Linked DNA regions of Homo sapiens. The protein of the gene in region 2 interacts with the protein of the main gene of each other region in a biochemical or structural test. Each region holds a gene or a part of one and is shown on either strand. Other genes may lie near its edges. The genes, in order: GNAO1 and CACNA1B.

Region 1 (3,500 bases), on a different chromosome or scaffold from region 2:
GGTGGGGCTTGTTGTCATGCTGGGCCTTGAGCGAGGCCTGTCCTCTCTCTGGGTCTGTTTCCTCGTCATTTCTGGCCCAGCTGGTCCACTGGGCTTTGTGAGGATGGGATCAACTTTGGGGTGTGGGCTACGGGGCACAGTGCTATAGGGAGGAGGAGCCGCCGCCCTGAGGGGCTTACACAGAGTGATGGGGCTTTGGGCTGGTGGTGTGGGTAGTCTGGACCCGTTCCGTGTACAGGCTTACCCACCTGACTCTTCCTATTTCAGGCCCACCTGTACCCCTGACTTGGGTTTCTGCTGTAATTGTTCTCAATGGCATCTGCAGGCAGTGATGTCAGTCACCAGCCCAGTCTTGATGCTGAGTGGGGCAAGGGTGGATGCGCTTCCTGGGCCGTGCTTGGACCCAGACTCACTGACCACCCAAAGCCCAGGTCAGCTTCCTGGCCATGTGCCCCTCACAGTGACTACCCAGACATTTCCCACTCCCCACTGCTAGACTCTATGCTATTACGGCCACTGCTCCAACTCCTGGGGTCTGAGCTCCACTTGGCTCATCTTTTTTCCCCCATGTCCACCACGGTTTCAAAGAGAGCAAAGGAGCTAGAAGCAGGAAGCCAGGAGGGCCCTTCCCCCTGGAATCCAGCCTCTCCCTGGACCTGCCCTGCCAGGCCTGTGGATGGCTTCAACCCAAGTCCCAGGCCCACCGGCCATGGGGCTGGGCTCTCGCTCACCTCTGGAAGATGGAAGCAAGGGACGTCTGGGTGAGCCTAGCAGCCACAGGCCCTGAGCTCTGCAGCCCATGGGTCCCCAGTGAGCATGAGCCTGGTGCTGGGCCTGGCACTGGGTGACCTTCCAGCCTGCGGGCCTTGCTGCCTGGAGCACTTGCCCTCCGGTCTTCTCCACCTTCTCTCACCTCCCTTTTTCCCCATTTCCCCCACCCTTCCACACAAGGGCTGGAGCAGAGGACCTTGGAGAAGCCAAAGCAAATGGAGCCAAGGTCACAGGCAGGCTCTTCCTGTGTCCTTCCTTCCCCAAGGCTGGCCACCTTTGCAGCCCGGGGAAGAGTAGCAGCTCGTGCAGGGAATGGGGATGACTTTGCAACCTGACAGCAGCCACAAAGGCAGCTCATTGCCGTGGTGGCAGCAAGAACAATACTGGCGCTGTAGAACTAAGCAGTCATCGCCGTGCGCTGGGGGCGCATGCAGAGGTGGACAGCTTGGGAGTCAGACAGATCTGGTCCAGGGTCTAGCATCACCCCTGCCGCCTGTGTGATCATGGGCAACCGCCCCACCCTGCCCGGGCCTGCACCTCCTCCTCTGTAGATGGTGACAATGGTAGAATGGACCACCGGGCTAAAAGCTGTAAAAGTGCCTGTACACAGGAATCATCACTCAGTGAATAGCTCCTGTGGCTACAACATTCAGATGCCATGGCTAGAGGTCAGGTTCTAGGATGTGGGAGCTCTGTCTGCCTCAGGGAGGCAAGAGCCAGGCCCCAGGAACTCAGGCCTTGGTCCTCAGCCATCCTCTCTGGTCAGCGCTGTGCATCCCTCTCTGGCCTGGGGTGAGAGCCTGCAACAAAGGTGTCTGGAAGCAGCTTCTGGAGCCAGGCCAGGAGAGCCCTGGGGCTAGTGGCTGCCACTGGCCATCCAGCCGCCCTGTCCGCTGCATCCCGGGAGCCCGAGAGCCTGGTCCTGGCCTCGTACCTGCTCTCAGCACCGCCCAGCCGGGCCTGCGGCTGCCACAGCTTCTCCACTACCACGGTCGCCTCCACTGCCTGCAGGGCCTTATCTTGCCAAACCAAGGCCAAAACCAGTTCTGAGAGACCCTCCAAGCCCGGAAGGTATGAAGCACCTCCCTCCAACTGAATCCATCAGCTAAGAGTTGAAAGCAGCAGGTTCTCAGGGCACCGCTGGGTGACTTTGCTGTGATGCCTGCCCAGCCCGCCCCTGCGCCCACACTCCTCTCCAGCCACTTGGCCTGGGCTCATCCCACCCATCCTGCATCTCTTGCCCTGCAATCCACAGGCCCAGGATGGCCATGGCCCCTGTGAGCCCGCACCGGGCTCTCTGCAGGAGCTAGCCAGGATGCCCTGGCCCTGAGACTGGTTGAACCAATTTTTCAGTATTTTTCTCTCTTTCTCTTGTTGGGTTTTTATCTTCTCTGTTTTCATCTGTTTTGCTGTGTTTCATCTTGGGGTTCCTCTGGCCCCTCTACTGAGAAACCAGCCCCAACAACCAGTTCTCCCAGAGCCTCCCCCGCTCCAGCCCACCAACGAGACCACCAACCACACCAAGGCCACAGCAAGCTCACCCCCGAGACGCTATTCCCTGGTGTCTGCTTCCAACTCGGGATTAATTCGAGGATCTCTTAGTCCTCAGTTAATGTTTCCCAACTGAATGCGTGCACCCTTCCAACCTTGCTGTCAAAACCGAATGAGACCCTGGTAGAGAAATCTGCATGAGCAGGGTTCCGCGCAGATGCGTTCGGTGGTGGTTGCGGCCCCTGCGCTGTACGTGCATGGTGCATGTCCTCTCCGTGAGCTGGAGCCTCTCCAGTGACCTCACTGCCCCCACCTGGGGCCAGCTCTCTTTGGAAGGGGGCAGCATCCCCCAACCCTGCCCGGCCCTGCTCCGCCCCGCCCTGCCTGCGTGTGGAATGAAACAGGACCACGTCCCGTCTGTCCTTGTGGGTCCTCCCGTCTCCGTCCTGGTGGTCTCCGTCCCGGTGGTGCATCCAGCCACATTGGTGGACCTTCCCTTTGCTTGTCCCGCTGTGTCATTGGCCGCGGTGGGTCAGGGCCCTGGATGCTGCCGCCCCTCACTCACCCCTCCACTCTGTTGCAGAACCGCATGCACGAATCCCTGAAGCTTTTTGACAGCATCTGCAACAACAAATGGTTCACAGACACGTCCATCATCCTGTTTCTTAACAAGAAGGACATATTTGAAGAGAAGATCAAGAAGTCCCCGCTCACCATCTGCTTTCCTGAATATACAGGTAGAGACCCCTCCAGGGACAGCAGGCCCCCGAGGGAGCGGGCCCCGTTCCCAAAGCCCAGTCCACCCTTCCTGTGCTCTGTGGATGCCCCTGACTCTGCCACAGAGAATCCACACAAACGGTCCCCCACCCTGCCCCCAGATTGTGCTCTAGAGAGGAGGGGCAGCTAGCCGGGGCTTCCTCATCAGGGAAAGCCGGTAGAGCCCTGGCTCTGCCACTTACGAGCTGTGTGACCATGGCGGCCTCTGGGAGCCTGAGCTCCACTGTCTGCGCACAGGGGCTCTCTGTGACGAGACGAGCAAACGCCGAGAAGATGAGGGGCGGGGCACAGAGGCTTGGAGTTAGGCAGCCCAAGGTTTATGCCCCAGCTCCGCCACTCACAAGCAGCTCAGGCAGGTCATGCAGCCTCTCTGAACCTCAGTCTCTGGGTCTGTGAGATGGGGTGATGGCTGTGATTGCCCTCGCCTCCCTCACCAGGTGCTATGAAGAGGGAATGAGCTG
Region 2 (4,012 bases):
GTTTACTTGGAAGTTGATTTTTATGTGTTACATAAGGTATGGGTTAAGATACGTTTTCTGACGATAGATATCCAATTCACCCAGCATCGTTTATTTGAAAAGATCATTCTTACCCAGTGTAATGGATTTTTTAAAAAACAAAAACAAAACAGCTTTAGGCCAGGCGCGGTGGCTCACGCCTGTAATCCCAGCACTTTGGGAGGCTGAGGTGGGTGGATCATGAGGTCAGGAGTTGGAGACCAGCCTGGTCAAAATAGTGAAACCCTGTCTCTACTAAAACTACAAAAAATTAGCTGGGTATGGTGGCCAGCACCTGTAATCCCAGCTGCTCAGGAGGCTGAGGCAGGCGAATCGCTTGAACCTGGAAGGCGGAGGTTGCAGTGAGCCAAGATTGTGCCACTGCACTCCAGCCCGGGCGACAGTGTAAGACTCTGTCTCAAAAAAAAAACAAAAACAGAAACAAAAAAACAGCTTTATTGAGATGTAACTAACACATTATACTGCTTGTTCATAACAATCCACTTACAGTGTGCAATTAAGTGGCTTTTAGTCTATTTACAGGTACATGCAAGCATCGCCACAGTCAATTTTAGAACACATTTTCAGCACCTCAAAAAAAAAGAAAAACCCGCACCGTTTAACTATCATCCCCTACATCCCTGTCCCACCCCTAGCCAACTATGAATCTGTTTTTAATCTCTGTAAACCTCTCTGTTCTGGACACTTTTTGTAAATTGAATGATACAATATGTGGTCTTTTGTGAGTAGCTTCTTTCGTGTGATGTTTTCAGGTTTGTCCACGCAGTGGCTTGTGTCAGAGCCTTGTTCCTTGTTACGGCTGAATATGTGTTCTGTGCTGTGCCACATTTTCCTTATTCTTTCATTTGCTGATGAACATTGGGTTGTTTCTACCTTGTGGCTGTTATAAATGATGCTGTTGTATACATTTATGTCCACATTTTTGTGTGGGTCTGTTTTTGCTTCTCATGGGTGTGTACCTAAAAGTGGAATTAATGAGTGATTGGGTAACTCTGTGTTTAACTGTTTGAGGAAATGCCAGACTGTTTCCAAAGTGGCTAAAGCATTGTATATTCCCACCAGCAATGCATGAGGGTTCTGAATTCCCCATATCCTTGCCAACACTTGTGGTTTTCCATCTTTTTAGTTTTGGTATTTTTTAAACTACAGCCATCATCATGGGCATGAAGTGGTGTCTCGTGGTGGTTTTTATTTGCCTTTCCCTGATGATGAGTGGTGTTGAGCAGCGTTTCATGTGCTTAATAGCCATTTGTATATCTTCTTTGGAGGAGTGTCTATTCAGATCCTTTACCCATTTTTTATTTGGGTTTTTTTTTTTTTTTTTTTTGAGACGGAGTCTCGCTCTGTTGCCCAGGCTGGAGTGCAGTGGCGCGATCTCGGCTCACTGCAGGCTCCACCTCCCGGGTTCACGCCATTCTCCTGCCTCAGCCTCCCGAGTAGCTGGGACTATAGGCGCCCGCCACCACGCCCGGCTAATTATTTTTGTATTTTTAGTAGAGACGGGGGTTCACCATGTTAGCCAGGATGGTCTCCATCTCCTGACCTCGTGATCCGCCCGCCTCGGCCTCCCAAAGTGCTGGGATTACAGGCGTGAGCCACCGCGCCCGGCCTTTTTTATTTATTAGAATAGTTATTTACATATTCTAAATACAACTCCCTTATCAGACAGAGGATTAGGAAATAAGTATTTTTCCCATTCTGTGGATTTGTCTCTTTACGTTCTCGGCGTCCTCTGAGCACAGAAGTGTCCGATTTGATGCGGCCTGATTTATCTGTATTTTTTATTCTGTTGCTCATGATTTTGGTGTCACATCTAAGGCTCCATTCCCAGATTCGAGGTCACGAAGTTTTGCCCCCGTTTTCCTCTAAGTGTTTTATAGTTTTAGCTCCTTACACTTAGGTCTGGAATCCATCATGAGTTAATTTTTGTCTATGGAGTAAAGTAGGGTCACATTCATTCTTCTGCATGTGGACATCCAGTTTTCCCAGCACAGTCTGTTGGAGAGGCCATTCTTTCCCCACGGAATGGTTTCAACACTCTTGATAGGTGGGTTTATTTGGATCTTTTGTCTTTGCCCTCTAACCTCCCATGTTCTCATTCCTAGGGGTCAGTATTTGGATTATGAGAAGGAGGAAGTGGAAGCTCAGCCCAGGCAGTGGAAGAAATACGACTTTCACTACGACAATGTGCTCTGGGCTCTGCTGACGCTGTTCACAGTGTCCACGGGAGAAGGCTGGCCCATGTGAGTGCTCATCCTGCTCTCCGTAGCTGGGGCAGGCAGCCCCTGAGCTCGGCCTCCCTTCCTCCCTCTATCCCTGGGCTCAGGCATGGAAGCAGACCCACCCTTGTGGTGCAGGTCTTGAGTTCTTAGGGCTGTCTCCTTTGGGGGTTCCCCTGACACTTGCTCTCCTCTTTGCCCAGGGTGCTGAAACACTCCGTGGATGCCACCTATGAGGAGCAGGGTCCAAGCCCTGGGTACCGCATGGAGCTGTCCATCTTCTACGTGGTCTACTTTGTGGTCTTTCCCTTCTTCTTCGTCAACATCTTTGTGGCTTTGATCATCATCACCTTCCAGGAGCAGGGGGACAAGGTGATGTCTGAATGCAGCCTGGAGAAGAACGAGGTAGGTGGACGCTCTGTGGAGTCTTGCAGTGGACAGCGTGGGCAGCGCCATCAGGCTTCCCTCCTGCACACAAATCACTCACAGCTGGGTCAGCTTTGGCTGCCACCGTCTGCCAACACAGGGGCAGGTCCTCCTTTCTCCTGCAGAGGGACCGGATTTGGCTGGTTGAGGCCTGCTTGGAGAAGGTCTGGGCTGCTTCAATTTGTCTTCTGTTGTCAGGGCTCCCTGTGAGGCCTGGCGAGACAGGGCTGGGTGCAGTAGATGCCGTCGGGTAGGTTTTCTGCTTCTGAGTCTCTGTGCTCCTTTCTCCCCTTACAGAGGGCTTGCATTGACTTCGCCATCAGCGCCAAACCCCTGACACGGTACATGCCCCAAAACCGGCAGTCGTTCCAGTATAAGACGTGGACATTTGTGGTCTCCCCGCCCTTTGAATACTTCATCATGGCCATGATAGCCCTCAACACTGTGGTGCTGATGATGAAGGTGTGTGGGGCTCAGCGCAGAGGGGCAGCTGGCGCTGCTAGGGATTGGGATCTAACCCTGAGGCTGAGTGGAGAGTCAGCCTTCTTCCTCCCTGCATGAGCCAAAGCAGTAGTGGCCTTGCATCCTGGCCAGCATGGGATGCCTGTGGAATCCTGTTTCCCTTTGTTGTCTGTGGGCTGGGACAGTGGGGAGGTTCTGGGAGGACTCGGGGAGAGCAGGAAGGGGTGTCCCAGGCCTAGGCAGGCATCGAGTTCTGTCTGCCCGCTTTGCTTGGTCATAGTGGTCCCAGATGGGGTGTCTTGGGGCTGCCAAACCCATGGCCAACAGTGCCTATTCCCCGGGCAGTTCTATGATGCACCCTATGAGTACGAGCTGATGCTGAAATGCCTGAACATCGTGTTCACATCCATGTTCTCCATGGAATGCGTGCTGAAGATCATCGCCTTTGGGGTGCTGGTACGTGCTTTGGTCCCTGCTTTGCCTTTTGACAACCTATATTCTGGTTCCCCATCTGTAGGGCGACCTTTGGGGGCTCACAATTTGGAGCTGGGAATTCTCCGAGTACCCAGAGTATATGTAATGCTACAGGGGCCCTGGGGAAGGGGCTGTTCTGAGACTCTTGGCTACATAAGCTCTGCCCCCAGCCTAGGTCCTGGGAGGGAGGCAGGGCTGGGTTCTTCCTCTTTGGACACATGGCTCTTAGTCCTGCCTCTGCCCAGGCCCAGAGGTATCTGTGTCCCTGGCTTTGACATCTGCTTACCTCTGGCCTTGTGCTGTGCCCCCTGGGGTGGCCTGTCTGCCCTGTGCTCAGGGTCTATCACCCTCACCGCTTTCTTAATCAGGGCCACCACCTATATATACCTCTT

What was found.
Region 1: the proteins of CACNA1B (region 2) and GNAO1 form a complex in vitro, tested with the Homo sapiens proteins (one study listed by BioGRID).

The regions. Positions count from the first base shown.
Region 1 is NC_000016.10:56,337,989-56,341,488, forward strand, and holds part of GNAO1 (guanine nucleotide-binding protein G(o) subunit alpha), read left to right. Parts: intron 1-2,845; coding exon of another isoform or gene 2,846-2,999; intron 3,000-3,500. UniProt on the Homo sapiens protein: Guanine nucleotide-binding proteins (G proteins) function as transducers downstream of G protein-coupled receptors (GPCRs) in numerous signaling cascades.
Region 2 is NC_000009.12:138,055,588-138,059,599, forward strand, and holds part of CACNA1B (voltage-dependent N-type calcium channel subunit alpha-1B), read left to right. Parts: intron 1-2,144; coding exon 2,145-2,282; intron 2,283-2,461; coding exon 2,462-2,663; intron 2,664-2,981; coding exon 2,982-3,146; intron 3,147-3,491; coding exon 3,492-3,602; intron 3,603-4,012. UniProt on the Homo sapiens protein: Voltage-sensitive calcium channels (VSCC) mediate the entry of calcium ions into excitable cells and are also involved in a variety of calcium-dependent processes, including muscle contraction, hormone or neurotransmitter release, gene expression, cell motility, cell division and cell death.